Regions from separate parts of the Homo sapiens genome. Here regions 1 and 3 are each linked to region 2. The links come from fine-mapping of genetic effects on gene expression. A gene starts in region 2. Each other region holds a variant in brackets. All regions are shown on one strand. Distances are between the middles of the regions.

The links.
Region 1: its variant is fine-mapped to the expression of CCNA1 in whole blood (INTERVAL, PIP 0.99).
Region 3: its variant is fine-mapped to the expression of CCNA1 in lymphoblastoid cells (GEUVADIS, PIP 0.95).

Annotation. Positions count from the first base shown.
Region 1 is chr13:36,451,797-36,454,296 of GRCh38, reverse strand. No RefSeq gene overlaps it. Among named protein-coding and RNA genes, the nearest start is that of CCNA1, 21 kb to the right of the region's middle. The variant A/G (reference allele first, on the strand shown) is at 1,345.
Region 2 is chr13:36,431,329-36,433,828 of GRCh38, reverse strand. It overlaps CCNA1 (cyclin A1), which reads right to left and starts at 1,334. Exons shown (of 9, transcript NM_001413923.1): 1 at 1,100-1,334; 2 at 608-796. The coding sequence starts at 772. RefSeq lists silencers at 1,441-1,600, 1,631-1,680, 1,961-2,030.
Region 3 is chr13:35,761,621-35,764,120 of GRCh38, reverse strand. No RefSeq gene overlaps it. Among named protein-coding and RNA genes, the nearest start is that of LINC00445, 65 kb to the right of the region's middle. The variant GTGTATAGGTGTGTA/A (reference allele first, on the strand shown) is at 1,036.

The DNA.
Region 1 (2,500 bases), 20 kb before region 2:
TACAAAAGTTCTTTGTGGTCATGTCGTGTGCTTAATGCCCAGAGGATATACTAATTGTTGGCTTCACCACCCATAGGACACACACCCCTGGATGAAAACCATTCTTGCTTAGATGCTCCCACTCCCAACACTGCAAATGTGATACCTGAAGCTCATGTTAGTCACAGGAAACACTACGTCATTAGGGTAGTGCTTAAGGATTCCATCTGGAGGATTCCATCTGAGGCCTGTCCATGCGCCAACTCCCTCCAACCTAAGCCCAGGTGTTGAGGAGTTATGATCTTGAACTTGGTTTTTCCATGGTTTCTGGAGTTCCTTTCTAGTTAAGCTTCCTAAGTTAAGGGAGAGGGGACAGTTGAGTTTACAGTACTGTGATATGGCCAGATCTGAGATGTTTGGCCTCTTGAGTTTAACGAAATAGAGAAAGAAGGAGAGAAAACCTCTGAGGGCCTCCCAACTGCAAGCAAGGCCTAACTCATGGACTCTCTTATCCGTCTGTCGTTGTGGGACAGACAGCTCTGAGCAGAGAGATGGTAACTAAAGACTAAATGCTGACTTTCTGCACATTTCTCAGAGTTATACTGCCACATAGAGGACACTGTGTGGTTAAAAGGAAGCAGGAGAGTGGCAGAGATGGCTCTTTCTCTCCAAATTCAGTTTGTTTGAGTGCAGTATAGATAATCAAATAGAATGGGACTTTTAAAAAAAATCCCATTATTTAAATTTTGCCTTGCTGTTTATTTCTAGCAGATGCGTAACGGTGAAGTCTAGAGTCCAAAGCAACCCTTGGAACAAAGAAGTTGAAACTGATGATCAATTCTTGAAGGTTCTAGTCTGAAACACCAGCCAAACTTTATTAAGCTCTTACATTTCCAGCACTGAGGTGGGTGCTATAGGCCAGTGCTTCTCAAACTTGAGTGTGCACACAAATCTTCTATCTTATTGAAGCACAGATTTCAAATTCAGTAAATCTAGGTTGGGGCCAAGGTTGTACATTTCTAAAAGACTTCCAGACAATGCTGATGTTGCTGATCCATGGACCACACTTTGAGCAGCAAGGCTGTAGAGGAAATAAAGAAAAGAGAAGTTCTGCTCTTAAGGAGCTTGTATTTTGCCACAAGATTGACTACTAATATTTGCTTGAAAGTATCAGTCTGAAGCTTTCCAGATAATTTTAAGGATCTTTGAATAAATCTCAATATATAGAGCCAAAATAATTCTCCTACAAGGAGTATTTGTATGTGTCTTGTGGAATCAATTTTTTTAAGCTGATGTTATGGAGTTACAAGTTTCAGAATTCTAGACTGTCAGATGTTAGTAACCCAAACTTTAGTTTTTCCTGAA[A/G]GTGAAAATATAATAAAATCACTAAGTGCTTAATAATACGAGACATTTAAAAGTATTCCAGTAATTTATCTTGTGTCAATATTTAATACAGAGCCCATCACTAACCTGGTGATTTGTATCAGCAGCATTCAACAATTTAACCCCAGGGGATTTGAGGAAGAAGGCTGCAGCTTTCCTGATGCCTCATTTGGACACAAGGGCAATGACTGTAATGCCAACAGGTCTAAGAAGCTAGGAATCTTCCTTAACAGCAGCTGAAGAATTCTATTTTTTTTTTTTTTTTTTTTTTTTGAGACAGGGTCTCACTCTGTTGCCCAGGCTGGAGTGCAGTGGTGGGATCATGGCTCGCTACAGCCTTGACCTCCTGGGCTAAAGCAGTCTGCCTGCCTCACCCTACCAAGTAGCTGGGACTGCAGGCATGTGCCACTATGTCCAGCTAATTTTTGTATTGTTGTAGAGATGGGGCTTTCACTATGTTGCCCGGGCTGGTCTCTAACTCCTGGGCTCAAGCAATCCTCCCACCTCAGCCTCCCAAACTGCCAGGATTACAGATATGAGCCACCATGCCTGGCCAAGAATTATTTTAAATTCTTCTATTTAAAATAAAGAGCTGGATAAAACTTTGAAAGGATTATAGAAAATTTACTAACAGGTAATTTAAACATACCCGTAAAAATCAAATTATAAATAATATAGAGGGCCAGGCTCGGTGGATAATACCTGTAATCCTAGCACTTTGGGAGGCTGAGGTGGGAGGATTGCTTGAGCCCAGGAGTTTGAGATCAGCCTGTTTGAGGACCTGTCGTTACGAATGAATGGAAGGAAGGAAGGGACAGAGGGAGGGAGGAAGGAAGGAAAGAAGGATGGAAGGAAGGAAGGAAGGAAAGAAAGAAAGAAAAAGAAAGGAAGGAAAGAAGGAAGAAAGGAAGGAAGGAAGAAAAAGAAAGAAGGAAGGAAAGAAAAAGAAAGAAAGAAAGAAAAAGAAAGAGAAAGAAAGAAAGAAGGAAAGAAAAAGAAAGAAAGAAAAAGAAAGAGAAAGAAAGAAAGAAAGAAAGAAAGAAAGAAAGAAAGAAAGAAAGAAAGAAAGAAAGAAAGAAAGCGAAAGAGCACACATGCATGGTGTTGCATGCTTGTAATCTCAACTACTTGGGAGGCT
Region 2 (2,500 bases):
TGGCTGACGCCTGTAATCCCAACACTTTGGGAGGCCGAGGTGGGCGGGTCACCTGAGGTCAGGAGTTGGTGACCAGCCTGGCCAACATGGTGAAATCCCATCTCTACTAAAAACACAAAAATTAGCCGGGCGTGGTGGTGGGTGCCTGAAATCCCAGCTACTCGGGAGGCTGAGGCAGGAGAATCGCTTGAACCCGGGAGGTGGAGGTTGCAGTGAGCCGAGATCGCGTCACTGCACTCCAGCCTGGCGACAAGAGCGAAACTCCGTCTCAAAAAAAAAAAAAGAAGGAAAGGAAAGGAAAGAAAAAAAAAGGAAAGGAAGAAGGAAGAGAAACAAAGAAAAAGAAAGAAGGAAAGAAAGAGAAAGAAAAGAAAGAAAGAAAGAACGAAAGAAAGAAAGAAAGAAAGAAAGAAAGAAAGAAAGAAAGAAAGAAAGAAAGAAAGAAAGAAAGAAAGAAAATAAATCAATCAACTTTCCTGTAGTCCAGATTCCAGGGTTGTAATACTCAGGGGGAGTTGTAGGTACAAGGGCAAGAGAAAAGCACCTGGCACCAAAGCAGGAGAGCTGTTCTCCACAAGCATCATTCTCAATGCGTCTGAGTCATTACCTGGCCACAGGTCCTCCTGTACTGCCCATTTGCAGTTAGCAGCCCTAGCACTGTCCTCTGCGGGGGATCCTGGCCCAGCGGGGCTCTGGTGAGTATCTGACAAGCATCGGGACCTCGGGCCACTGTAGCCAGCACAACTCCACTCTTGGGGTTGCTGCAGTGCATTGCTTCAGACTCCACGGGCTGCTGCTACCAGGGAAAGAGAAACAGACAAGCTGTTTAGTCGATTCCGTCCACCCCGGGCTCCAAGGACACAGCGAACCTCTAGGAGGGAGAGCACCAAGCAATGGGACTAACACCAATTGCTGATCTTCCCAGTAATTATTGGGGCTGAAAGGGCAGGTGCGACCGCACAGGCGATCAAAGTTGCTCTGAATCAAAACAGTTATTTGAATCCCTGAGGGAGGCTTTTTATCCCAAGACTTCGTGTTGGGCTGGAAGGAGAGAAACATTCTGACAAGCCTCCAAGTCGGGATACTAAACCCACGTTACCTGGAAGACGAAATCTGGGAGCCCCGGTCCTTCCCAGCTGAGATACTCTTCTCCCCAGCCCCCAATAAAAGATCCAGGGTACATGATTGCGGGAAAGCCGGTCTCCATCCCAAGTGACGAGCAGGGTGCTGCGCTGCGGCCTCCTCCCACCAGACAGGAGGCCCCAAAACCTGCCTGGACCCCAAAGCGGGCCCCGCTCTTCCCGTCGTTATCTTTCTATGTGTCCGGAACAACTGGCAAGTGCACTGGAGGATCGCGGTTAAGAGGTGGCCGGCTGGGCGGGGCAGGGCGGGGCAGGGTTGGGCAGGGCCGGGCCGGGCCGGGCGGGGCAGGGCGGGGAAGGGCAGGGAAGGGCAGGGCACGGAAGGGCGGGGCGGGAAGGACCAAGTGTCGAGGGATTCCAGCCTGGGAGGCGGCCGGGCTTAGCGATGCGGCTGAGCTGCCCACCCGCGTCTGTTGAATCGGCCAATCAGCGGCGCCCCCGGACCTAGCGGGAGCGTTTCCATGCCGACCGCGGCAGGCGTGCGCTCTCCGGGGCCGCATCGCCATGGCGACCTGCTCACCTGACTCGCTCCGGGTGGACTCGCCGCGACCCCTGGGCGTTCAGGCCCCTGAGGGCCCAACGGGCGACGGCCCTCCAGCTCCAGCTGTGCGTCTCCGCCCGGGCGAGGTGGGGCTGACCGCGGCCGTCTGCACACGTCCCCTCTGGTCCGCGCCCCCGGCCTGGGAGGGCGGACTCGCCCACCCCACGATGGCCCCGGCTTTGGAAGGGACTGTTTCCGTGACCCGTTCTCCCAACAGCCGCTAACAACCCCCTCTAACGTCTCCTGCGCGGCCCGCTCCTGAGAACCCTGGCTCGGGAGAGCGACGCGGGGTCCTCGGGGCTGCGCAGGCTGCGGCGCCCTGCCCACGCTGGCCCGAGGGCGCGGCTCGCTCCGGGTCGGCTCACACACCTACGCTTCCTGCCGGGAGGCGGCTGGGACGCGGCGGGGCTGCCCCAAGTGCAGTCGCGGCAGTGTTGCGTCTCCATCGCGGGGGTCCTTGCGGGCCGCGCCTGCCCCGCCCGGCTCCCGGTGCATGTGGCCTGCGAGGCGGCAGAGGAGATGTGGGGATTTAGGGTCGCACGTCGTGCTCGAGGTCCCCACGAGAGGTCTTCCCCCGCGGGCTCCTGCGCAACTGCGTGAAGCCGGCCCGGGAAAGCCAAGATTGTGGCCCAGGAAGAGGAAGGAACGCGGGCGACAGAGCTGGGGCTTGGGACGTTGAGGGGGTCGGTGGCAGCTCTCCGGGCTGGGGGCCGGGCGGGCGGCCCGGCCGCGTGGGGAGAGGAGTCCCTGGGGTCCTTATACGGGGGGCTCCTGGAAACCCGGGGGCTCAGACGCCTGCATAGGTGACTGACAAGCC
Region 3 (2,500 bases), 670 kb after region 2:
TCTGGCCTTGGCCACCTCTGTGCCTCGGCCACCTCTGTGCCTCTTCAAGTCTGGAATTTGGGGATGATCCTCAAAGTGAACTTTCGCAGGAGGGACCACAGGCCCCTATGAGAGGACCAGACACCATCTGGAGGAAGTCAGAGCACAGCTGGCAGGCGGGCTATTTGCTGTTCACTGTCCTGCAGTTCCCAAGGATGCCTGGGAGAAGCTTTGGAGCTCAGACCCTGCACCGCAGCTACTCCTGTGTTTCCAAATTTCCCACCGCACAGCAGCAGCTCACGGTGCCATTGCTAGAGTTTCCAGTAAAGTCACTACCTTGTTATCCTGAAAGTACACGTGTATGTATGTGTGTGTGTATGTGTGTGTGTGTAGGCGTGTAGGGGTATATGTGCGTATAGGTGTGTATGAGTGTAGGTGTGTATGTATGAGTAGGTGTGTATGAGTGCAGGTGTGTAGGAGTGTGTGTATAGGTGTGTATGAGTGTATGTGTGTGTAGGTGTAGGTGTGTATGTGTGTAGGCGTGTGTATAGGTGTGTAGGGGTGTATGTATGAGTCTAGGTATGTATGTGTGTAAGTGTGTATGTGTGCATGTGTAGGTGTGTAAAAGTATGTGTATATAGGTGTGTATGAGTGTAGGTGTGTATGTATGTGTGTAGGTGTGTATGTGTGTAGGTGTGTATATAGGTGTGTATGCATATATGTGTGCAGGTTTGTGTGTAGGTATGTATGTTATAGGTGTGTATGTGTGTAGGTGTGTTTGTGTATAGGTATGTGAGTCATGTAGGTGTGTATAGGTGTGTATGTGTAGGTGTGTTTGTGTATAGGTATGTGAGTCATGTAGGTGTGTATAGGTGTGTATGTGTAGGTGTGTATGTGTGTATAGGTGTGTATGTGTAAGTGTGTGTAGGTGTGTATGTGTGTATAGGTGTGTATGTGTAGGTGTGTGTAGGTGTTTATGTGTGTATAGGTGTGTATGCGTAGGTGTGTGTAGGTGTGTATAGGTGTGTATGTGTAGGTGTGTGTAGGTGTGTATGT[GTGTATAGGTGTGTA/A]TGGGTGTAGGTGTGCATGTGTAGGTGTGTGTGTAGGTGTGTAGGTATGTATGAGTGCAGGTATAGGTATGTGTGTGTGTAGGGGTGTATGTGTGCATAGGTATGTGTGAGTGTAGGTATGTGTGTGTAGGTATGTGTGTAGGGGTGTGTGTATGGGTGCGTATGAGTGTAGGTGTGTGTAGGTGTGTAGGTAAGGATTGTGTATAGGTGTGTATGTGTGTGATGTGTATGTGTATAGGTGTGTAGGTGTGTAGGGGGTATGTATAGGTGTGTATGAGTGTAGGTGTGTATGAGTGTGGGTGTGTGTAGGTGTGTATTAGTGTAGGTGTGTAGGTGTGTAGAGTGTGTGTAGGTGTGTGTAGCTGTGTATGAGTGTAGGTGTGAATGAATGTAGGTGTGTGTATGTATGAATGTAGGTGTGTATGTATGTGTGTGTAGGTGTGTGTATGAGTGTAGGTGTGTATATGTGGTGTGTGTGTGGGTGTGTATGTATGTGTGTGTGTAGCTGTGGGTATGAGTGTAGGTGTGAATGTATGTAGGTGTGTATGTGTGTATAGGTGTGTATGAGTGTAGTTGTGTATGTATGTGTGTGTAGGTATGGGTGAGTGTAGGTGTGTATGTGTGTGTAGTTGTGGGTGAGTGTAGGTGTGTATGTGTAGTTGTGGGTGACTGTAGGTGTGTATGTGTGTGTGTAGGTGTGTATGAGTGTAGGTGTGTGTGTAGGTATAGGTGTCTATGTGTGTAGGGTTGTATGTGTGTATGAGTGTAGGTATGTATGTGTGTAGGTGTGTATGTGTAGGTGTGTAGGTGTGTATATATAGGTGTGTATGCATATATGTGTGCAGGTTTGTATGTGTGTAGATATGTATGTGTGTTATAGGTGTGTATGTGTGTAGGTGTGTGTGTATGTGTATAGGTATGAGTTGTATGTAGGTGTGTATAGATGTGTATGTGTAGGTGTGTGTATGTGTGTATGTGTAGGTGTGTGTAGGTGTGTATAGGTGTGTATGGGTGTAGGTGTGCATGTGTGTAGGTGTGTGTAGATATGTGTGTGTAGGTGTGCAGTGTGTGTAGGTATGTATGAGTGTAGGTGTAGGTATGTGTGTATGTGTGTGTGTAGGGGTGTATGTGTATAGGTATGTGTGAGTGTGGGTATGTGTGTAGGTGTGTATGTGTGTAGGGAGTGTGTGTATAGGTGTGTATGAGTGTAGGTGTGTGTAGATGTCTAGTATGTAGGGAGTGTGTATAGGTGTGTATGTGTGTGGTGTGCAGGTGTGTATAGGTGTGTATGAGTGTAGGTGTGTATGTGTGTGGGTGTGTGTAGGTGTGTATTGGTGTAGGTGTGTAGGCGTGTAGTGTGTGTAGGTGTGTACGAGTAGGTGTGTATGTGTGTAGGTGTATGTGTAGGTGTGTGTAGCTGTGTGTATGAGTGTAGGTGTGTATGAATGTAG